3 separate regions of the Homo sapiens genome follow, and regions 1 and 3 are each linked to region 2. The links come from fine-mapping of genetic effects on gene expression. A gene starts in region 2. Each other region holds a variant in brackets. All regions are shown on one strand. Distances are from middle to middle.

Region 1 (8,000 bases), 73 kb after region 2:
ATGCAGTTGTGTGATCATGGCTCACTACAGCCCTCACTTCCTGGGCTCAAGTGATTCTTGCGCCTTAGTCTCCCAAGTAGCTGAGACCACAGGCACATGCCACCATACCCAGCTAATTTTTAAAATAAATTTTGTGGGGATGGGAATCTCGCTGTGTTGTCCAGGCAGGTCTCGAACTCTTGGGCTCAAGCAGTCCTCCTACCTCGGCCTCCTAAAGTGCTGAGATGTAATCCGTGTTCCAGAGCACTTTGGGAGGCTGAGGCAGGAGAATTGCTTGAGCTTAGGAGTTAGAGGCTGCAGTGACCTAGGATTGCACCACTGTGTTCCAGCCTTGGGGATAAAACACAACCTTGTTTCTTTCTTTCTTTCTTTTTTTTTTTTTTTTTTTTCCAAGTATGTTTCTAGGCCAGGTGCGGTGGCTCACACCTGTAATCCCAGCACTTTGGGAGGGCCAGGCGGGCGGATCACCTGAGGTCAGGAGTTCAAGACCAGCCTGATCAATATGGAGAATCCCTGTTTCTACTAAAAGCATAAAATTAGCTGGGCGTGGTGGCACATGCTTCTAATCCCAGCTACTGGGAAGGCTGAGGCAGGAGAATCGCTGGAACCCGGGAGGCGGAGGTTGCAAGATTGCGACATTGGATTCCAGCCTGGGCAACGAGCGAAACTCCGTCTCAAAAAAAAAAAAAGTATGTTTCTGGTGTCAAAAAGTCCTGGGTTCAAATTTCTGCTCCACCGTTTAGTTAGTTGTAAGATCTTTTACTTAACTTCTCTGTGCCTGACAGATTGTAAATGTCCAGTAAATGTTAGTTATGTTTTACTTTTCATTTTTTAAAATTTTATAGCGATGGGGTCTTGCTGTGTTGCCCAGGCTAGTCTCAAACTCCTAGGCTCAAGCAGTCCTCCCACCTTAGCCTCCCAAAGTGGTGAGATTACAGGCATGAGCCATGGTACCCAGCCTGTTAGTCATTCTTGTAAAAAAGATAATGGTAAACCTGGCACATAGATGTGTGCGTGCGTGAGTGTGTGTTTGTGTTAAAATGTACATAACATAAAATTTACCATCTTAGGCTGGGCGTGATGGCTCACGCCTGTAGTCCCAGCACTTTGGGAGGCCAAGGCAGGCAGATCATGAGGTCAGGAGTTCAAGATCAGTCTTAGCAACATGGTGAAACCCAGTCTCTACTAAAAATACAAAAATTAGCTGAACGTGGTGGCGCATGCCTGTAATCCCAGCTACTCAGGAGGCTGAGGCAGAAGAATCGCTTGAACCCAGGAGGCGGAGGTTGCAATGAGCCGAGATCATGCCACTGCACTCCAGCCTGGGTGACAGAGCAAAACTCCATCTCAAACAACACAAAAAAAATTAGCTGGGTGTGGTGGCAGGCATTTGTAGTCCCAGCTACTCAGGAGGCTGAGACAGGAGAATTGCTTGTACCTGGGAGGCAGAGGTTGCAGTGAGCCGAGCTCACGCCACTGCATCCCAACCTGGGTGACAGAGCGAGACTCCATCTCAAAAAAAAAAAAAAAAAAATTTACCCTTTTAAAGTATACAGTTTAGTGGCATTAAATACATTGATGTTGTGTAACCAACACCAGCATTAATCTCCAGAACTTCTTCATCTTCCCAAACTGAAACTTTGTATATATTGAACTATAACTCCCATTCTCCCCTCTCCGCAGTTCCTGGCAGTCACCATTCTACTTTGTTTCTATAAATTTGACTACTTCAGGTACTTCATATAAATGGAATCATACCACATTTGTCCTTTTGTGTCTGGCTTATTACACTGAAAATATCTTCATGATTTATCCATGTTGTAGCATGTATCAGAATTTCATTTTTTAAGGCTGAATAATATTCCTTTGTATGTAAATATCTCATTTTGTTTATCCATTCATCGGTTGGTGGATATCTGGATTGTTTCCGCCTTCGGCTGTTGCAAACAAGGCTGCTGTGAACATGACTGGGCAGATATCTGCTTGAGTCCCTGCTTTCGATTGTTTTGCGTATAGGATATATATCCAGAATTGAAATTGTTAGATCATGATAATTCATGATAATTCGGTTTTTGAGTAATTGTTACAGTTTTCCACAGTAACTGTATCATTTACATTTCTGTCAGCAATGCACAAAGGTTCCAGTCCCTCCACGTCCCTGCCAACACTTGTTATTATTTTTTGTTTGTTTGTTTTTGAATAGGAATTCTAGTGGATGTGAGGTGCTGTCTCATTGTGGTTTTGATTTGTAATTCCCTAAGATTAGTGATGTTGATCATCTTTTCAGGTGCTTATTGGCTATTCGTATATTTCCTTTGGAGACATGTCTATTCAGATCCTTTGCTTAGTTTTTAATTGGGTTTTTGTTGTTGTTTTTGTTTCTAAGTTGTAGGAGTTCTTTGTATATTCTGGATTTTAATCCATTATCCACATATATGATTCTCATTCAGTGGGTTGCCCTTTCACTCTGTAGTGTCCTTTGATGCACAAAAAATTTAATTTTGATGAAGTCCAGTTTATCTGTTGTTTTTTTTTCCTTTTTTGCCTGTGCTTTTGGTGTCTAATAAATCATTGTCAAGTCCAACATCATGAAGCATCTAAGAGTGTTAGCTCTTCTGTTTAGTCTTTCATTTATTTTGTGTTTTTTCTCATTTTTTTAAATTTACTTTTTGTATTGTATCATTTTTGTATTGCTGTAAATGTGTTACAGCAACTTGTAAAAGAACAATATTTTGTGTTAATTTTTTGTTGTTAAGACAGAGTCTGGCTCTGTCGCCCAGGCTGGAGTGCAGTGGCACAATCTTGGTTCACTGCAACCTCTGCCTCCCAGATTCAAGTGATTCTCCTGCTTCAGCCTCCCGAGTGGCTGGAACTACAGGCACACGCCACCACACCTGGCTAATTTTTGTATTTTTTAGTAGAGATGGGGTTTCACCATATTGGCCAGGCTGGTCTCGAACTCCTGACCTCAAATCAAGTGAGATCAAGAGAGCCTCTGGCTCTCCAAGTGCTGAGACTACAGGTATGAGCCACCACGCCTGGCCCCACACTGTTTTGTGTGTGTGTGTGTGGGGTGCGGGGGAGGGGAGCTTTTTTTTTTTTTTTTGAGAGGGAACCTCCCTCTGTCACCAGGCTGGAGTGCAGTGGCGTGATCTCGGCCCAGTGCAACCTCCGACTCCCAGTTTCAAGCGATTCTCCTGTCTCAGCCTCCCTAGTAGCTGAGATTACAGATGTATGCCACCACACCCAGCTAATTTTTGTATTTTTAGTAGAGGTAGGGTTTCACCATGTTGGCCAGGCTGGTCTCGAACTCTTGACCTCAGGTGATCTGCCCACCTCGGCCTCCCAAAGTGCTGGGATTACAGGCGTGAGCCACTGCACCCGGCTTTTTTTTTTTTTGTTTGAGAGACTGGTTCTTGCTATGTTGCCCAGGCATGGTTTCAAACTCCTGGGCTCAAGCAGTTTTCCTGCTTCAGCCTCCCGAGTAGCTGGGATTACAGGCAGGTGCCACTATGCCGGGCTACCACACTGTTTTGATTACTGTAGTTACGTAGTAAGTTTTGGAATCAGGAAGAATGAGTCGTCTGACTTTGTTCTTTTTTTTTTTTTTTTTTTTTTCCAAAATTGTTTTGGCTGTTTGGGCTTCCTTGAGATGCCATATGAATTTTAGGATGGGTTTTTCTTTTCACATAGTTTTTTACTTTGGGCTAAAAATCTGAATGGGATTCTGCTCAGTTATAGATAGTTTTTATTTCACCTAGGCCCTTGAATCACTGTATTTTTCTTATTTTTTTTGAGACCGAGTCAGGCTCTGTCACCCAGGCTGGAGTGCGGTGG[C/T]GTGATCTCTGCTCACTGCAACCTCCACCTCCCGGGTCCAAGAGATTCTCCCTGTCTCAGCCTCCCAAGTAGCTGAGACTACAGGGCGCCTGCCACCACGCCCGGCTAATTGTTTGTATTTTTATTAGAGACGGAGTTTCACCATATTGGTCAGGCTGGGTATTTTTCTTTATGTATTGTGTTGCTCTTGGCCAGGTGCAGTGGCTCATGCCTGTAACCCCAGCACTTTGGGAAGCTGTGGCAGGCAGATCACCTGAGGTCAGGAGTTCGAGACCAGCCTGGCCAACATATAGTGAAACCCCGTCTCTACTAAAGAAGACAAAAATTAGGGCCAGGGCGGTGGCTCATGCATGTAATCCCAGCACTTCGGGAGGCCAAGGCAGGCAGATCACCTGAGGTCAGGAGTTCGAGACCAGCCTGACCAATATGATGAAACCCCGTCTCTACTAAAAATAGAAAAATTAGCCAGATGTGGTGGCAGGCGCCTGTAATCCCACCTGCTCGGGAGGCTGAGGCAGGAGAATTGCTTGAAGCAGGGAGGCGGAGATTGCAGTGAGCCGAGATGTGCCACTGCACTCCAGCCTGGGTGACAGAGCAAGAGACTCTGTCTGAGAAAAAAAAAAAAATTAGCTGGGCCTGGTGGCACACGCCTATAGTCCCAGCTTCTTGGGAAACTGAAACAGGAGAATTGCTTGAACCCATGAGGTGGAGGTTGCAGTGAGATGAGGTCATGCCACTCTACTCCAGCCTGAGTGACAGAGCGAGACTCTGTCTCTCAAAGAAAAACAAAAAGAAAAATTATGTTGCTCCATACATCTTTGCTCTTATAAATGAATCATTTTGTTATGGTTGGAGCACTTTCTTCTTGTTTTAAAGTTTGTTTTCACATTTTAAAAAATTAAGATATAGAGTGAAAACTTTCTTGTCACTGTCTTTTAACTTCCTAGTTTTAAACCCCATCACTGTTTTTCCATTTCTATCATATTAGAGTTTCTTTATACATATACAAGCTAATATTTATTTATTTATTTATTTATTTATTTATTTATTTATTTGAGATGGAGTTTCAGTGTTTCACCCAGGCTGGAGTGTAGTGGCGTAATCTTGGCTCACTGAACCCTCTGTCTTCCAGTTTCAAATGATTTTCCTGCGTCAGCCTTCCAAGTAGCTGGGATTACAGATGCCTGCCACCACGCCCGGCTAATATTTGTATTTTTAGTAGAGACTGAGGTTTCTTCATGTTGGCCAGACTGGTCTCGAACTCCTGACCTCGTGATCCACCCGCCTTACCTTCCCGAAGTGCTGGGATTACAGGCGTGAGCCACCGGGCCTGGCATATCTATTTATTTTTAAGACAAGGTCTCATGCTGTTGCCAACGCTGGAGTGCAGTGGTGCAGTCACGGCTCACTGCAGCCTTCACTTCCCGAACTCAGGTGATTGTACCACTTTAACCTCTCAAGTAGCTGGGACCACATGTGCGTGCCACCATACCTAGCTAATTTTTTGTATTTTTTGTAGAGAGGGGATTTGCCATATTGCCCATGCTGATTTTCAACTCCTAGGCTCAAGCTGTCTGCCCGCCTCAGCCTCTCGAAGTGCTGGGATTACAGGTGTGAGCCCCACACTTGGCCAATGTTAGAACTTTATTGGGAAAGAATATTTAGGCATATGGTAAAGAGTATTTAGGTATATTGTAATATGTCCTGTTAACAGAAATTCTGTACTTTTCCTGTTGCTTACAATTCTGCTATTTAATGATTTTCATCGCTATTATTTTGTTAACATTGAACAATTTGAGTACTACTAGTACTCAAAAGTACTTTAAAGTATTTAAACTTAGTTTAGGAATGCTGATTGCCTAGTTCATGAAGTCTTATTTTATAATTTCATCTGTAATCCTGAATCTCAAACTATGGCAGAAAATCCAGGGCTCTGAGCAATGATATGAGTTTATTTTTCCAATTTCTGGAGTGAAGATTCCAGATGCTTTTCTCTGTCTTAGGCCTATTGTCTCGAAAAATGATAGTTAATTGTTCTGATAGAGAGAAAACTTGGGTCTGGTCTCTTGTCCTGCTTGTCAGAGCTGCTTACTTTGTAACCACTTTTTTTTTTTTTTGAGATGGAGTCTCGCTCTGTCGCCCAGGCTGGAGTGCAGTGGAGCGATCTCGGTTCACTGCAAGCTCCGCCTCCTGGTTTCACTCCATTCTCCTGCCTCAGCCTCCCGAGTAGCTGGGACCACAGGCGCCCGCCACCACGCCCGGCTAATTTTTTTGTATTTTTAGTAGAGATCAGGTTTCACCGTGTTAGCCAGGATGGTCTCAATCTCCTGACCTTGTGATCCCTCTGCCTCGGCCTCCCCAAGTCCTGGGATTATAGGCGTGAGCCACCGCGGCCGGCTGTAACCACTTAAATCTGCTGGTTGTGGGAAACTGCAAAGGCCTCCACATAACATTTCTTGTATGCCTACTATGTAAAGTAGTATGTAAAAGATATAAACATAGGTACGTTAGAGGATATAAAGATAAATTACAAGAAGATGCAGTCAGTAGACTAAAGACTACATGTATTAAAAGACTGCAGCTGGGCTTGGTGGCTCACACATGTAATCCTAACACTTTGGGAGGCTGAGGTGGGAGGACTGCTTGAGCCCAGGAGTTCGAGACCAGAGTGGGCAACAAAGTGAGACCCCATTTACAAAAAATATAAGAAAACTTAGCAGGGTATGGTGGTATGTGCCTGTGGTCCCAGCTACACAGGAGGCTGAGGTAAGAGAATCCCTTGAGCCCGGGAGGTTGAGGCTGCATTGAGGCATGTTTGAGCCACTTCACTCGAGCCTGGGTGACAAGAGTGAGACCCTGTCTCAAAAAAAGGAATACAATAATTATAATACTAGGTATAATATGTTTGTAAATTAAGTAACTTGCATATTAGGAACAAGTACCCCTTAAGTAGGAATTATACCCTCATTCAGCACTTTTTACACCTTGGCTGTAAGTATGATAGGCTTACCAAATCCTGAAAATTCTTTTTTTTTTCTTTTTTTCTTTTTTTTGAGATGGAGTTTCGCTCTTGTTGCCCAGGCTGGAGCGCAGTGGCGCAATCTTGGCTCACCGCAACCTCCGCCTCCTGGGTTCAAGTGATTCTCCTGCCTCAGCCTTGCTGAGTAGCTGAGATTGCAGGCATGTGCCACCATGCCCAGCTAATTTTGTATGTTTAGTAGAGATGGGGTTTCTCCATGTTGGTCAGGCTGGTCTCGAACTCCTGACCTCAGGTGATCCGCCTGCCTCAGCCTCCCAAAGTGCTGGGATTACAGGTGTGAACCACTGTGCGCGGCCTTTTTTTTTTTTTTTTTTTTGAGACGGAGTCTGATTGGCCCCTGCTCTCCTCCTGATTATCCCTGTTGCCCCAAGGCCATTTTAGACAGGACCGGGCACGTTCAGGGTGGTATGGCTGTAGACACCAGGGCCATTTTATTTAATTTATTTATTTATTTATTTATTTATTTATTTTTAGCAAGAGTTTTGCTCTGTCTCCCAGGCTGGAGTGCAGTGGCACGATCGTGGCTCACTGCAGCCTCCACCTCCTGGGTTCAAGTGATTCTCCTGCCTCAGTCTCTCAAATAGCTGGGATTACAGGTACACGCCACCATGCCTGGCTAATTTTTGTATTTTTAGTAGAGATGGGTTTCACCATGTTAGCCAGGCTGGTCTCAAATTCCTGACCTCAGATGATCCACCTGCCTCGGCCTCTCAAAGTGCTGGGATTACAGGTGTGAGCCATCGGGCGCAGTTGGACATTTTAACCAAAGAAAAATCAATCAGCTAGTTAACTTTCATGGAAGTATCAAAATGGTGTTGTCCAGTGAAGTCTCATCTTGAATAAATTTAACTCTAATGCACTTCCCCTCTACGCATCACTCTCGTTATTAAAGTTCCTGATTCTCATTTTGCCTTGGAGATGTGATAGTTTTATTTATTTATTTAGAGACAGAGCCTTGCTTTGTCACCCAGGCTGAAGTGCAGTGGCATGATCTTGGCTCACTGCAACCTCTCCACCTGGGTTCCAACGATTCTTGTGCCTCAGCCTTAACATACAAACATATAAATTTTTTTTTTTTTTTGAGGTAGAATTTTGCTCTGTTGCCCAGGCTGGAGTTCAGTGG
Region 2 (8,004 bases):
AAGTTGGTTTTGCTGGACTAGGTACAACTCTGGGGTGTGTGTGTGTGTATGTATGTGTGTGTGTGTGTGTGTGTGTGTGTGTGTGTTGGTGTTGATAAAAACGGGGAGCAATGCTAAGATTTCTCATGAGGGTGGATTTACTTTAAACAGTTTATACCCTCCTACCCTAACCATCCATTCACACCATGACACCTGTGCCCTTCTCCCTCTAGGGAAACGGCAACAAGCCTCCCAGTACTGACCTGAAAACTTGTGACAAGAAGAACACCAACAAGTGCTCCCTGGGCTGAGGACCCTTTCTTGCCTCCCCACCCCGGAAGCTGAACCTGAGGGAGACAACGGCAGAGGGAGTGAGCAGGGGAGAAATAGCAGAGGGGCTTGGAGGGTCACATAGGTAGATGGTAAAGAGAATGAGGAGAAAAAGGAGAAAAGGGAAAAGCAGAAAGGAAAAAAAGGAAGAGAGAGGAAGGGAGAAGGGAGAGGAATGAATTGAGGAAGTGAAAGAAGGCAAGGAGGTAGGAAGAGAGGGAGGAGGAAAGGAAGGAGAGATGCCTCAGGCTTCAGACCTTACCTGGGTTTTCAGGGCAAACATAAATGTAAATACACTGATTTATTCTGTTACTAGATCAGGTTTTAGGGTCCTGCAAAAGGCTAGCTCGGCACTACACTAGGGAATTTGCTCCTGTTCTGTCACTTGTCATGGTCTTTCTTGGTATTAAAGGCCACCATTTGCACAAATGTTCCTGTTTTGGGTAACTTGGATTATTGTCAGAATTGTTCTCCACTCAAATCCAATTATTGTGTCTTCAAAGTGATTGATTTACCCAAATCAGGCTCGGTTTCTGTGGAACCAGGACTAATCCTACTGCTGTCTCTTCCCTAGCTGTTCTGTTGGTAAGGAAAATAGCAAAGAGCAGGAGGTAGAGTGATCTGAAGGTCTGGATATCCTCTTTCCGCCATGGGGTCCGGATGCCCTTGTGGGCAGAGCCTTGTCCTGAGCACAGGAAATTCCCAGCGAGAAGAACTCTAACAGTCCTAGCCTCAGGGAAATAACTGCACCTAGTGATTTATCCAGTGATTTGTGCAAGCTTCTTTGATTCTGCCAGCAATCCATTTAGTTATTTGATAGGCATTAATATCTGCTTTTATTAGTGAGGAAAATGAGAAGTTCATTTATTCATATATGTATATTGAGCATCTACTAAGTGCCAGGCACAATGGTCAGTTATTTTATTTATTTATTCATTTATTTTTAGGGACAGAGTCTTGCTCTGTCTCCGAGGCTGGAGTGCAATAGTGCGATCTCAGCTCACTGCAACCTCTGCCTCCTGCCTCAGCCTCTCAAGTAGCTGGGATTACAGGCGTGAGCCACCATGCCTGGCCAATAGTCAGTTAATATAGCCCTTTGGTGGTACTTACAAGCAGAGGGACAAGGACTTTTTTTCTTTTTTAAGACCGAGTGTGGCTCTGTCGCCCAGACTGGAGTGCAGTGGCACGATCCCAGCTCACTGCAACCTCTGCCTCCCGGGTTCAAGCGATTCTCCTGCCTCAGCCTCCCGAGTAGCTGGGATTACAGGCACGTGCCACCACACCTGGCTAACTTTTGTGTTTTTAGTGGAGACAGGGTTTTGTCATGTTGGCCAGGCTGGTCTTGAACGCCTGGGCTCGAGTGATCAGTCTGCCTCAGTCTCCCAAAGTGCTGGGGTTACAGGCGTGAGCCACTGCGCCCAGCCTGGGACAAGCAAACTTTAACAAAAACAGCTCTTTGGCTGGGCGTGGTGGATCACAACAGGAGTTCAAGACCAGCCTGGCCAGCATAGTGAAACCCCGTCTCTACTAAAAATACAAAAAAAAAAAAAAATTAGACAGGAGTGGTGGAGGGCGCCTGTAGTCCCAGCTACTTGGGAGGCTGAGGCAGGAGACTCACTTGAACCTGGGAGGCAGAGGTTGCAGTGAGTTGAGATCACACCACTGCACTCCAGCCTGGGTGACACAGCCAGACTCTGTCTCAAAAAAACAAAAACGAAAACAAAAACATCTCTTTGCTGAATAACAAAGATGGCAAAACTACTGGAAATGCAAAAGAAAATTCAGGCTTGGGCCGAGCACGTTGTTTCATGCCTGTAGTCCCAGCACTTTGGGAGGCCGAGGTGGGTGGATCACTTCAGGTTGGGAGTTTGAGACCAGCCTGGCCAACATGGCGAAACCCCATCTCTACTAAAAATACAAAAAAAATTAGCTGGGCATGGTGGTGGGTGCCTGTAATACCAGCTACTTGGGAGGCTGAGGGAGGAGAATCGCTTGAACCTAGGAGGCAGAGGTTACTGTGAGCAGAGTTCGCACCATTACACTCCAGCCTGGAGACAGAGCGAAACTCCATCTCAAAAAAAAAAAAAAAATTCAGGCTTGATGCACAGCATCCTTAAGTATATATATATTATATTATATTATATATTACAATGTATAATTATATATATTATATATTAAATATATAGGAAATATATAATATATATAACATGTATATGTTTATAAACATATAACATATTATATATAATATATAATTATATATTATACATATATATTAAATATATATTATAATTATATATTTAATATATAATATATTATGTTTAATATATAATTATATATAATTATATTATGTTTAATATATAATATATAATACATATTTTAATACATAATATATATATATCCCCCTTTCACCATACATAATATTTTTTACACAGCAAAATGTAATAACTTGATAAATGTAAGTATCCAAGCATTGATGAGGTAATGATAAACCTTATTTGTGGCTTATGCTTAAGTTCTTTTTTTTTTCTTTTGAGATGAATTCTTGCTCTTGTTGCCCAGGCTGGAGTACAATGGTGTGATCTCGGCTCACCGCAACCTCTACCTCCCGGGTTCAAGTGATTCTCCTGCCTCAGCCTCACGAGTACCTGGGATTACAGGCATATGGCACCATGCCCAGCTAATTCTGTATTTTTAGTGGAGACGGGGTTTCTCCATGTTGGTCAGGCTGGTCTTGAACTCCCGACCTCAGGTGATCCGCCCACCTCGGCCTCCCAAATTGCTGGGATTACAGGCGTGAGCCACTGCGCCCAGCTGTGTTTGAGTTCTGTAGTAAACTGTCCGGTAGGTTTAATTTGCTCAAGCGATGAGGAAAAGACTTGCACTTTGTGCCTCCTGGGAAAGAGACTAACGTCTTCAACATACCTTATGGCAGATATTTAATTTCAGAGTAGAGACCCCACTCTGATGCCTGGTAAGGTTATTGGAAGTGAAATATCACAAGATCTTACAGTTTGTTGTGAGATAAGGTAGGATTTGGTGAGGAGTAACAAATACTAGCAGATTTCGGCCCAAACTTCAATTATAGCTAAACATTACTGGAAAAAACCCCACAACCTACTTTATGTAACATATAACTACTCACACACATACACAAAAATAATACACACACAATTTCAGCAAACACAAATAATAATTTAAAGAAACAAATTCAAAATTAGAGCCAGGTATGGTGGCACATGCCTGAAATCCCAGCTACTTGGGAGGATCCCTGAAGACGAGAAGTTCCAGGCTGTAATGCGCTATGATGGCTCCTGTGACTTGCCACTGCACTCCAGTCTGGCAACATAGCCAGAGTCCATCTCGTTCAAAAACAAAAACAAACAAACAAAAAACGGCGAAATGAAGGCTCAGCCCTCATCAGGTTTAGGTGACAGAGCTAGACCCTGTCTAAGAAAAAAAATAAAATTAAATGAAAATTCGTTATCAGACAGTAAAGCATGAACCCACAGTGCTGGTCAAGTCACTGCAGATCTGAGTGTGTATCAAGGTTTAACTCCATAAGATGAAAAGCAGGCAATGAATCTTTGGCCTGGGTGTTGACAGTCTAGGCTCAAGCCTCAGCTTTCCCACTCATTAGCTTGCTGACCTTGGACAAGTCACTTATATTCTCTGAACTTACTCATGAAACGGAGATACATTTCATCTGCCTCTCGCAAGAAAAAGTCCTGGTAAATACACATTAGCATTTCCGTTTTACACAGAACACTGACAGATACTTTCCTAAGATCATGGAGTTAATAACCACCAGAACCTAGACTCAATACTTATGGAACTTCAAATCTCATGCTTTTCTCATTGCACTTATGATTACTCCATTATGTAGGAGCAAGGGAGAGTTGAGAGCATTTGAAGAGGTTATGCAAAGGACCAGCTCTGAGGAGTAGGCTTAGCAAAGTAACATGAGGGAAGGTAACACCGTTCATCTGTGTAGCGGAGTGGGAGCCAAGAGACAAGGAGAAAGTTTCATGTTCGTCATGTGTCTCGGATATTCCGGTTTCTGCAGGGACGAGAACGCGCAGTTTCGCCTCCATCCCTTGACCTCCAACACAGCTTCTCCACTGGATCATCGGTGGCGATGAAGGGGCGGCTGGGGAAGGATGTCAGAGAAACCAGAAGCTTGACGGTGAATCCTCGGGTTTTAAGGAGAGAGCAAAGTCCTGAGAGGGCGACGTATTGTCCCTGCTCACCTAGCCCAGAATGAACAAACACGCGCCAGCCAGGGAGCAGCGAGCCGAGAATTCGGACGAGCCTCTGCAACCGCCATTTGCCGTTCTCGCAAAGACTACCAAGACCACAATGCAACGGGGCGCCGAGCTAATTCCCAGTGAGCAGCAGGCGAGGCGCCACCGACGCGGAAGACTATAAGCCCCAGCGGGCGACGACCGAACGCCCCCGGGAACACCGGGCCCCGAGCTCGGTCCCGCGCCCGAGGATCCTCCACGGGGCTAGATGGCTGCGTCGGGGGCGGGAGCGGAGGTGAGCGGGCGCTAGGGCCGCGAGCCCCCGCCGGCCCTTCCTCCAGCGCCCTGCGGACCCCGCAGAAGGCGCTCGCCTCCCTAGCCCGCAAAAACATATCGATTTTTCTCGCTGTGGCAACGGGGACGTCCTGATAGATCCTCTGCTCCAATAGGCAACTCCGGCCTTCCCTGCCCTGACCTGGAACCTCTGGGAGGGCTGCAGAGTAAGTGCCGCCTCTGCGCTCCGACGGAGGCACGAGGCCTGTGGAGTAGGTCCCTCTGTTCCGACAGGTGCGACACTTGGCGCTCCATGCTTGCGGGTGCCGGGAGGCCTGGCCTCCCCCAGGGCCGCCACCTCTGCTGGTTGCTCTGTGCTTTCACCTTAAAGCTCTGGTAAGGAGGAGGTAAGGGGAGGGAAAAGGAGGTCACTGGAGGACAGGATCGTTCCCGGCCTCGGGGCTGGGGGAGATCTTATCCATGGACAGCGCAGGAGGGGGTGCCCTATTTTCTGGGTTTTGACTTTTGTCCCTTCCCCCAACTCCGCTACAGCCAAGCAGAGGCTCCCGTGCAGGAAGAGAAGCTGTCAGGTGGGTGATTGTCTGGGAACCCGACACGTCCCGTCGTTTGTTTTTGGTTTTAGTATCTTCCCCATATACCAAGAGCACAGGTGGAAAAGGCCGGCACCACATGGAATGAGGGCAAGCGCTGTGCCGGGAAGTTGGATGGGCAGAGCCTGGGAGAAATGTTTTCTGAATGGCCTGGGGCTGGCATTTATCTTTCCTTTCAGCAAGCACCTCAAATTTGCCATGCTGGCTGGTGGAAGAGTTTGTGGTAGCAGAAGAGTGCTCTCCATGCTCTAATTTCCGGGCTGTGAGTATCTATTTCTCTACCCTTTTTTTTTTTAAACATCTAAGCAAACACTTAAGCAACATCTTAACATCCAAGTCTTATTAAGCTGCCTTTGCATCATCTTTTTTTCTTTCTTCTTGCAGTCTCAGTGTATGTCCAAATCTGTACTTGTCTTTCCCCTGAAAATGTGCCCCTTTCTTTCCAAGCTAATGGCAGTATTCAACTGATAACTATGGTTTTTTTGTTTGTTTTTGAGACGGAGTCTCACTCTGTTGCCCAGGCTGGAGTGCAGTGGCGAGATCTCGGCTCACCACAACCTCCGCCTCCCGGGTTCAAGCGATTCTCCTGCCTCAGCCTCCTGAGTAGCTGTGACTAAAGGCGCGTTGCACCATGCCTGGCTAATTTTTGTATTTTTAGTAGACTCGGGTTTCACTGTGTTGGCCAGGCTAGTCTCTAACTCCTTACCTCGTGATCTGCCCGCCTCGGCCTCCCAAAGTGCTGGGATTATAGGCGTGAGCCGCCACACCCGGCCTCAAATAACTATGTTTTATTCACTTTTAGTATAGTAGGCTCTGGAATGGAATGTATCTTTGCCACTCCTAGACTGTTGCCCCTGAAGTGTTCTAACATACATTCGTAATCATGCAACCACCACCTCCACCATCCGCATCAGAACTCTTTCATTAGCTCTCTGTTGCCTACCACTCCAAACCATAGCAGTTGGGCACCTGCACCTTCTGAATGGCAGCCTTTTTGTTTATCCTGTTGCCCCTTCCTAACATGTACTTTGCTCCTTTTCTCCTGGCAGAAAACTACCCCTGAGTGTGGTCCCACAGGATATGTAGAGAAAATCACATGCAGCTCATCTAAGAGAAATGAGTTCAAAAGGTGAGTGCTGTTTCTCTTCTCTGAGATCACCTCCTTTGCTCCTATGACTTTAGATGGATGGTCCCACCTTTTCCCCTGGTCTGGGGGTAGCATGGAATATCTGAAAGAAGAGGGGGCCGGGCTCACACCTATAATCCCAGTACTTAGGGAGGCTGAGGCTAACAGATCACCTGAGGTCAGGAGTTCGAGATCAGCCTGGCCAACGTGGTGAAACCCCATCTCTACTAAAAATACAAAAATTAGCTGGTGTGGTGGGTGCCCATAATCCCAGCTACTTGGGAGGCTGAGGCAGGGAGAATCACTTGAACCCAGGAGGCAGAGGTTAGAGTGAGCCAAGATCATGCCACTGCACTCCAGCCTGGGCAATGGAGCGAGACTGTGTGTCAAAAAAAAAAAAAAAAAAAAGAGGCTGGGAGGGGTGGCTCACGCCTGTAATCCCAGCACTTTGGGAGGCCGAGGCGGGTGGATCACGAGGTTAGGAGTTCAAGACCAGCCTGGCCAAGATGGTGAAACCTCATCTCTCTTAAAGATACAAAAATTAGCTGGGCATGATGGCGGGCACCTGTAATCCCAGCTACTTGGGAGGCTGAAGCAGAAAACTGCTTAAACCCGGGAGGTGGAGGTTGCAGTGAGCCAAGGTCACGCCACTGCACTCCAGTCTGGGTGACAGAGCGAGACACCATCTCAAAAATAATAAGAAAGAAGACGGGATTTGGAGCCAAATTACTTGAACCCAAGTCCCAGCTCTACTCCTCAGCACTATGTTATTGGCCATATTTTCTCATCAGTAAAATTGGTTAATACTAGCTCTGCTTATCCAGAGAATAAATTAAATGATCTATTTGAGAGGGATTTATGTACTATACACACAATAGAAGCCTGGCTCTGATTTCCTCTTGAGTGTATCCTGGCTAGGCTGAAGTAGAAGGGAAATTAGAGGGAGAAGCTGTCTGGCCTTCCTTGGGAATAACTATTCCTTCCTGCCCTCAGCTGCCGCTCAGCTTTGATGGAACAACGCTTATTTTGGAAGTTCGAAGGGGCTGTCGTGTGTGTGGCCCTGATCTTCGCTTGTCTTGTCATCATTCGTCAGCGACAATTGGACAGAAAGGCTCTGGAAAAGGTCCGGAAGCAAATCGAGTCCATATAGCTACATTCCACCCTTGTATCCTGGGTCTTAGAGACCCTATCTCAGACAGTGAAAGTGAAATGGACTGATTTGCACTCTTGGTTCTTTGGAGCCTTGTGGTGGAATCCCCTTTTCCCCATCTTCTTCTTTCAGATCATTAATGAGCAGAATAAAAAGAGTAAAATGGTTTCCTTCCCTTCTGTAACTTGGAGCAGGAAGTCATGGGGGCAGAGAGGGAAAGGAGGTGGTTACTTAAGGCCCCAATCTACCAAGTCTTCCCCACCACTTCTCCCTTGTTTTCCCCCTCTTCTACTA
Region 3 (8,004 bases), 26 kb after region 2:
CCCTCCTCCCCATGGCCTTGCCCTGGGCCTGTTTATTTGGCTGGTCGCAGGGGCTGAGCCTTGGAAATAGATGCTCACCTCTCACAGAGACAGGATGTCTGTACACAGGCTAAACCCATGCCAGGCTGTCTTACGCCTATGCCAGACATAGCTCCCCAAAGTGAGGATGAGACCAGGAAGATGGCCCTGGCCCATGCTGGAGTGGGCTGCTGCTCTCTGTCCACCCTCCTTCTCCAGGCTTCCCTGCCAATTCAAGAGCCTTAGGATTCAGTGGAAGAATGTCCCTTGGTTTTGGTGCTGTTTTTCCAGCTAGGAGAGCTGCTATTCCTTGGATGTTCTAGTTTGGGAGGTGCAGGCTTTGTGTAGCCTTCCTGAGGCTGGGCAAGTGGCAGAGCCCAGAAGCCTGTGCTCTCCAGAGTGGGAAGGAAAGAGGCTGGCAGTAATGGCTCTGTGACATCCACCTGTGGCCTTCCTCTTAATCTCTCAATTAGTCCTGGACGCATCTGGAAAGAAAGCAGAGGTTCCTAATAGGCACTCCCCCTTGTGAGTAGCCCGGGAGCTCCTGGCAGCCCCTCAGGGACTCTGCTTAGAGTGATGCCAAATGAGACAGGCCCTCAGCAGAGTATCTGTCTCTGCCTGGCAGGATGATGTCAAGCAGTAGTGATATCATTGATGAGGGCAGTCTGCAGATGGGCTCTGGTGGGTTATTTGCACCAAATCTCGGTGGACCTTTCAAACCCCAACACTGGCCTTTTTTTTCTGGCAGATAATTTCTTTATTTTTTTTTTAACTTTTTTTTTTTTGGAGACAGGATCTCAGTCTGTCACCCAGGCGGCTAGAGTGGAGTGACATAAACATGTCTCACTGCAGCCTCTACTTCCTGGGCTGAAGTGATCCTTTTTTTTTTTTTTTTTTTTTGAGACAGAGTCTCTCTCTGTTGCCCAGGCTGCAGTGCAGTGGCACAGTCTCGGCTTACTGCAACCTCCACCTCCCAGGTTCACGCCATTCTCCTGCCTCAGCCTCCCGAGTAACTGGGACTACAGGCGCCCGCCACCACGCCCGGCTAATTTTTTGTATTTTTAGTAGAGACAGGGTTTCACGGTGTTAGCCAGGATGGTGTCGATCTCCTGACCTTGTGATCCGCCTGCCTCGGCCTCCCAAAGTGCTGGGATTACAGGTGTGAGCTACTGTGCCTGGCCTAGATATTTTAAAAGCAGTGGCGGCAGCAGCATATCCTGGTGACAGAGATGGCAAGGATGGCTGAAGGAAATAGTGCTCAGGACCCTCCTGACATTCCCACTTGTTCCCCATGTCTCAGTTACAGGCCCAAAAACTGCGACTGGCATACACAAGGAGCTCTCATTATGGTGGGTCTCTGCCCAATGTTAACCAGATTGGCTCTGGCCTGGCCGAGTTCCAGGTGAGTAGACCCCAGCCAGGGAGGAGTGGAGTTTCTTAGGCTGCTTCCTCTGCTGACTTCTGTCCTTTTTGGCAGAGCCCCCTCCACTCACCTTTGGATTCATCTCGGAGCACTCGGCACCATGGGCTGGTGGAACGGGTGCAGCGAGATCCTCGAAGAATGGTGTCCCCACTTCGCCGATACACCCGCCACATATCCTTCACAGGGGACTTGGGAGTGTCTGAAAGGTAGTGGGATGGGGTTCCTCAGGGACTCATAGGAAGCACTTGAAGTGTTGTGCGTCCCTTCCTTCTCTTGGAGCTCTTCTTTACCCAGCTTCCCTGAAAAGCGACCATAGCCCCTGCGTCAGCACCTGCTCCTGTGACAAGGAGTTTTGCTCCTGAGGCTGTGCCCCCTGTCTCTGGCTGGCTCTGGCTGTCTTCACATCAGCTTGCTGCCAGAGGCAAGCCTTCCTTGTCTCCTGCTAAAGGAGATTGGGTCTCTTCTCAGATTTCTAAGTTTTCAGTCTCAGAGACCTGCATAACTGTCTCCTCCAAGCCCTGCCTGAACATTCTCCTGGATTTTTTCAGCCCCTTTAGACCTGATTCCCTTTTTCTCTTCCATTCTTTGATCCTATTGTTGTCCCTTATAGAAGAGGAGAAAGGTATGAGTTTCTTGAAACAACTTATCTGCTGCCTTCATTGTTCTTTCCTCATTTGGCCTCTCTCATCTGTCCTCTCTACTTTTTTCCTTAACTGGTGCTGTTCACATTGACAGCTCTCCCTATAGTCCTGCCTACTTATCTCCTCCCCCAGAGTCTAGCTGGCGAAGGTAAGTGTCCAGGGCGGGCAGAAGCTCCTGCCTACTCTCTGACGTGTTTCTGGAAGGAGTTGCCCCTTCTGGGTTGGGGCTGGGATTACTGGGCTAAGGTTTCAACAGTACCTCTTCCTATAACGCCAGGGCTGAGAGAGGTGGAGACAGTTGGAGTAGGTGGGTCAGAGTCCAGCCTTGGCCATGTTGACACTAGTGGTCAAGCCTCCCAGTCCAGCCAGAGCAGAACCAATGGGAACCATAGCCAGGCTGGGGTGTGTGTGTAAGGGGGAGGGGAGAATGGCAGAGGGGCAGGTGAAAATGGCAACCTTCTGTCAAGGGTGGGTGCAAGATGTAGTGTTCTGGCACTTTTAGATTTCTTAAACTCTCCCCTTGTCCATCTCACTTTCAATGCTCATACCCAGGAATGCTGCTGGGCTCCAAGATTCCCATTCAGCTGGTCCTGGCAGAGAGAAGTTTCCAGCTCTCTTAGATTGACTGGGGGAGGGGTCAATCATAGGCAGGAGAAGAACCAGAAAGAAAAGGGGATGATCTGGGTGCTCAGCCATCTTTACTTCCACCTTAGCTGCCCCACATTTTCCAACCCCTATGCCCACCTTCTTGTCCACTGCCAGCCTTCCTCCTCATGACTTTGTTTTTCTACCCCAGGACGATGGCCTGGGGCAATTTCCCTGCAGAGAAGGGGCAGTTGTTTCGACTACCATCTGCACTTAACAGGTGATGGCTTTTGCCTTCTTTAGGCCAGATCTCTTATCTGTAGTTTCTGGGGCCCTGCTCCCTCACCCCCACCCTGTTCCAGACCAGCTAGTGTTTTCCCTTGCTGGGCAGGGCTTAGGGACCAGGAAGACTGTCACTGGTGTCAGCTCATTCCTGCTCCCCCCATAGGACAAGCTCTGACTCTGCCCTTCATACAAGTGTGATGAACCCCAGTCCCCAGGATACCTACCCAGGCCCCACACCTCCCAGCATCCTGCCCAGCCGACGTGGGGGTAAGTGGCCCTGTCCCAGGGTTGGGAGTAACCATGGAGCTATTTATTTATTTATTTATTTATTTATTATTTCTTTCTTTTTTGAGACGGAGTCTCACTCTGTCGCCTAGGCTGGAGTGCAGTGGCGTGATCTCGGCTCACTGCAACCTCCGCCCTCCGAGTTCAAGCGATTCTCCTGCCTCAGCCTCCTGAGTAGCTGGGATTACAGGCATCTGCCACTGTGCCTGGCTAATTTTTTGTGTTTTTAGTAGAGATGGGGTTTCACCATCTTGGCCAGGCTGGTCTTGAACTCCTGACCTCGTGATCCACCTGCCTCGGCCTCCCAAAGTGCTGGGATTACAGGCATGAGCCACCATACCCGGCCTCCATGGAGCTATTTAAAGCAGGTAGGCAAGTGAGCACTGCAGCCAATGCCACTGTATCCCTTGCAGGTATTCTGGATGGTGAAATGGACCCCAAAGGTATGTGTTCCTCACTGCTGTGGGTACTGAATGCCAAAGAATTTCTGGGCTGGTGTTGGGATTGTGTGCAGGTTCAGGGAGCAGGACTCCTTCCCACCTGCTTCTGCTTCCTGTCCTGCCTTACTGGCTCTTTCTCCAACTCTCCCATCACCAGTCTTTCTCTTTCAAGTACCTGCTATTGAGGAGAACTTGCTAGATGACAAGCATTTGCTGAAGCCATGGGATGCTAAGAAGGTAGGAGGAGGCCACCGGGTGTCACCCACTAGTCTCTCTGCTATCCCCTTGCCATGGGGCAGGCCTTCCAGGGTTCTCTGCTGAGCACTGTCCTCATTTTCCATATTCTCCCTTCTCTCCTCAGCTATCCTCATCCTCTTCCCGACCTCGGTCCTGTGAAGTCCCTGGAATTAAGTAAGTACTCCCTGAGGTTGGCTGAGAGGTGGGGGAAGGAAGTACAGGGAGATGTAGGAGACTGATCTCTGCTCTTCCCTGACCACTGCACCCACCCTCCTATTTACATCTTTCTTTTTCTCTCCTTCCCCTAGCATCTTTCCATCTCCTGACCAGCCTGCCAATGTGCCTGTCCTCCCACCTGCCATGAACACGGGGGGCTCCCTACCTGACCTCACCAACCTGCACTTTCCCCCACCACTGCCCACCCCCCTGGACCCTGAAGAGACAGCCTACCCTAGCCTGAGTGGGGGCAACAGTACCTCCAATTTGACCCACACCATGACTCACCTGGGCATCAGCAGGGGCATGGGCCTGGGCCCAGGCTATGATGCACCAGGTGAGTGACTGTCCTGGCCATGTGCCCACTGGGTGCTGCCTGACTGGAGGGATGAAGGGGAGGTAGGTTTGAGCACCTGAGATCCTGCTGTGATCACCCACACCGCCTGTCACCTCTGCACCCCAGGATTCCCTCACGGCAGTTCTCAGCCAGTGATAACTGGTAGGTGTGGTGTTTCCTAGAAAGAAGAGGAAGGGCAGTCCCCAGATGGGCAGTGCTGTCAGGGATAGAGTAGGGAGGACGTTGTGTTGCCGCTTTCATAGTCTGGTCACTGCCACCCATTCTGGGTGGAAAGGGGCTCAGTTCCCATCAGTAATGTTG[G/A]CATCTCTGGTTTTTTGTCTGTGCCTGCAGGACTTCATTCACCTCTCAGCCACCCATCCCTGCAGTCCTCCCTAAGCAATCCCAACCTCCAGGCTTCCCTGAGCAGTCCTCAGCCCCAGCTTCAGGGCTCCCACAGCCACCCCTCTCTGCCTGCCTCCTCCTTGGCCCGCCATGTACTGCCCACCACCTCCCTGGGCCACCCCTCACTCAGTGCTCCGGCTCTCTCCTCCTCCTCTTCCTCCTCCTCCACTTCATCTCCTGTTTTGGGCGCCCCCTCTTACCCTGCTTCTACCCCTGGGGCCTCCCCCCACCACCGCCGTGTGCCCCTCAGCCCCCTGAGTTTGCTCGCGGGCCCAGCCGACGCCAGAAGGTCCCAACAGCAGCTGCCCAAACAGTTTTCGCCAACAATGTCACCCACCTTGTCTTCCATCACTCAGGTATGCGTGGCTGCCTTCCCTGCATGTCTGTCTCCCTTCCCTTTTCTCCTGCCATGTTGTTTCCCTCCCACCCTCCTTTCCTGAAATACCTACTCTATACTCATCCCCTTCCATTCCTCTGTCCTCCGCCTGCCCCATCTTTTATCCATCTTGTCTCCTCTTGCTTCACAGTGCAAACCCAAACGCTGTGGTTAAGCTTTTTTAGCTTCAAACCCTGGCTCCACCTCTTACTAGCAGTCACCTTGGACAAGTTATTTAATTTCTATAAGCCTCAGTATTTTCATTTCTAAAACAAGGATGGTTCATAAGGATCAAATGAAGTAACATACATAAAATACTTAGCACCACACATAGCCCAGGTATGCTTGACAAATAGTAGCTTACCCTTTCCTTTTATTTGCCTCCTCTGTTCCTGTCTGTTTTATATCTGTCTTTTATCTCATGCCTCTATCTTGTCCCGTCTCCTCCCCTGTATCCCCTCCTAATTTCATAGAATTCGTAGAATCAGTCAATTTCCTACTGTGGAGCCCAATTCCTTCACTTAATAGATGAGGAAAGTGGGACCTAGAGGGAAAGTGACTTTTCCAAGTTTACCCAGCAAGTTAGGAAGAGTTGAGACTAGAACTCGAAGCTCTTAGTTTAGGGCTTTTTCCACAGAGATGAAATTCTTAGCCCTTGTCTCCCTTCCTGTCCTTTTCTTCTTGTTCTCTATCTCTACTCCTCTTTTCTTTCATCCAAATGCTCTTTTCCCTCTCCTCTGCCCAACTTTTCCTCCTCCATTGCTATCCCTGGAATGTGTGTTCTGTGTTCCATCTTTACTCAGGTCCCCTCTTTTGTAGGAAAGACTGAGGCCAGATTAGCAAGGGCTCTGTTCCCAGAGTGTGGAGTGAGCTTGACTTCCCTTCCTTTCTTTCTCCTTTTCTTTCTTTCTTTTCCCACCCCCTCTGGCCTCTTCAAGGCTGTAGAACAGCAGTTCTCAACCTTAGTTCCTTATTTACTAACAATAAATAGTTCAAGTATCAAGATTTAAGAATGGTTTACTTCTAAGGCTAGGCACAGTGGCTTATGCCTGTAATCCCAGCACTTTGGGAGGCCAAGGCGGGAGTTCAAAACTAGCCTGGTCAATATGGTGAGACCCAGTCTCTACAACAAATAAAAAATTACCCAGGTGCAGTCGCGCACGCTTGTAGTCCTGGCTACTGGGGAGGCTGAGATGGGAGGATCACTTGAACCAGGAAGGTTGATGCTACAGTTCCAACTATGATTGCACCACTGTACTCCAGCCTGGGCAACAGAGTGAGGCCCTGTCTCAAAAAAAGAGAATAGTTTACTTCTGGAGTAGATTTAAAATTACCCCTGTGTTAGCCTCACTATATCACTTTCATTCTGATAGGCACTTTTTTTTTTTTGGAGACGGAGTCTCGCTCTGTTGCCCAGGCTGAAGTGCAGTGGTGTGATCTTGGCTCACTGCAACCTCCCACTTCCTGGGTTCAAGCAATTCTCCTGTCTCAGCCACCCGAATAGCTGGGACTACAGACGCCTGCTACCATGCCCAGCTAATTTTTATATTTTTAGTAGAGACGGGGTTTCACCATGTTGGCCAGGCTGGTCTCGAACTCCTGACCTCAGGTGATCCACCTGCCTTGGGCCTCCCAAAGTGCTGGGATTACAGGCATGAGCCACCACACCCTGCCAACTAATACACATCCCTGGGGTTGAGTAACTGCACTCAACCCCAGGGATGCCCGTGAGAATGTGGAATGTTGTCATGTTTGTTTTGGGAATGGTTGTAGCTAAAGAAGGTGGGAAGCTCTGACTGAGAGTTCTTGGGGTATACACTGAGCAGTAAGCTTCCCTCTTTTTACTTCTTTTCAGGGCGTCCCCCTGGATACCAGTAAACTGTCCACTGACCAGCGGTTACCCCCATACCCATACAGCTCCCCAAGTCTGGTTCTGCCTACCCAGCCCCACACCCCAAAGTCTCTACAGCAGCCAGGGCTGCCCTCTCAGTCTTGTTCAGTGCAGTCCTCAGGTGGGCAGCCCCCAGGCAGGCAGTCTCATTATGGGACACCGTACCCACCTGGGCCCAGTGGGCATGGGCAACAGTCTTACCACCGGCCAATGAGTGACTTCAACCTGGGGAATGTGAGTACTCAGGCTCCTTGCTCAAAAGCAGGGGAGTGGGTGAGGGTGGGTCAATGGGGCCTGAATGGCATGGCTGGTGCACTGTGAATGGGGAGATCTAGGTGGGGTGGGTGGTGGGGAGATCTCCTCTCCCCGGAGGTAACATAGCACTGCCAGCTTGGGGCTCCTCTCTTCCTGCGTTTGACCCTACTCCTGCCCCTCTATTTCTGCTCAGCTTGCTCTTTGATGACTTCTGCCTTGACCCGTTCTCTTCCTGGCATGCACATGCTCTGGCCCAGCAGGTACGGTGCCCATACTTACTTCGGGCCCCGTGCTCGCTTCTGTCGCTCTGCTTGCTGCCACCTCCCTCTGTCATTGCCTCTGTTCCTGGGGTGGATGAAGGTTGCTGGGCAAAGGGGATATGTTAGCAGGGCTAGGCAGGACACCAGTTCTAAATCCTACTTCCTAAAGATTTGTCTGTATGTCTATAGCTGGAGCAGTTCAGCATGGAGAGCCCATCAGCCAGCCTGGTGCTGGATCCCCCTGGCTTTTCTGAAGGGCCTGGATTTTTAGGGGGTGAGGGGCCAATGGGTGGCCCCCAGGATCCCCACACCTTCAACCACCAGAACTTGACCCACTGTTCCCGCCATGGCTC

Alleles and levels. Positions count from the first base shown, and alleles are read on the strand shown. Sizes are in standard deviations (SD) of each study's normalised expression.
With allele C in place of T in region 1, the expression in thyroid of the gene that starts at base 4,715 in region 2 is higher (large effect, 0.95 SD a copy in GTEx).
With allele A in place of G in region 3, the expression in tibial artery of the gene that starts at base 4,715 in region 2 is lower (large effect, 0.75 SD a copy in GTEx).

The links.
Region 1: its variant is fine-mapped to the expression of JTB in thyroid (GTEx, PIP above 0.99). The same link has a PIP of 0.9 or more in aorta, caudate, fibroblasts, left ventricle, spleen and testis.
Region 3: its variant is fine-mapped to the expression of JTB in tibial artery (GTEx, PIP 0.93).

Annotation. Positions count from the first base shown.
Region 1 is chr1:153,901,172-153,909,171 of GRCh38, reverse strand. All of the region lies in intron 1 of GATAD2B (GATA zinc finger domain containing 2B), which reads left to right. Among named protein-coding and RNA genes, the nearest start is that of GATAD2B, 18 kb to the left of the region's middle. RefSeq lists an enhancer at 3,998-4,499. The variant C/T (reference allele first, on the strand shown) is at 3,838.
Region 2 is chr1:153,974,385-153,982,388 of GRCh38, reverse strand. It overlaps JTB (jumping translocation breakpoint), which reads left to right and starts at 4,715. Exons shown (of 5, transcript NM_006694.4): 1 at 4,715-5,219; 2 at 5,376-5,413; 3 at 5,614-5,696; 4 at 6,484-6,563; 5 at 7,554-8,004. The coding sequence starts at 5,137. The coding sequence ends at 7,710. RAB13 (RAB13, member RAS oncogene family) reads left to right here. Exons shown (of 8, transcript NM_002870.5): 8 at 213-739. The coding sequence ends at 290. It overlaps JTB-DT (JTB divergent transcript), which reads right to left and starts at 4,646. Exons shown (of 1, transcript NR_186180.1): 1 at 3,229-4,646. RefSeq lists silencers at 4,242-4,536, 4,825-4,874 and enhancers at 4,545-4,594, 4,596-5,244, 5,894-6,543.
Region 3 is chr1:153,948,481-153,956,484 of GRCh38, reverse strand. CRTC2 (CREB regulated transcription coactivator 2) reads left to right here. Exons shown (of 14, transcript NM_181715.3): 2 at 1,319-1,420; 3 at 1,496-1,612; 4 at 2,169-2,230; 5 at 2,879-2,947; 6 at 3,116-3,219; 7 at 3,651-3,680; 8 at 3,850-3,914; 9 at 4,039-4,088; 10 at 4,223-4,467; 11 at 4,819-5,225; 12 at 7,101-7,370; 13 at 7,841-8,004. Among named protein-coding and RNA genes, the nearest start is that of DENND4B, 5.8 kb to the right of the region's middle. The variant G/A (reference allele first, on the strand shown) is at 4,789.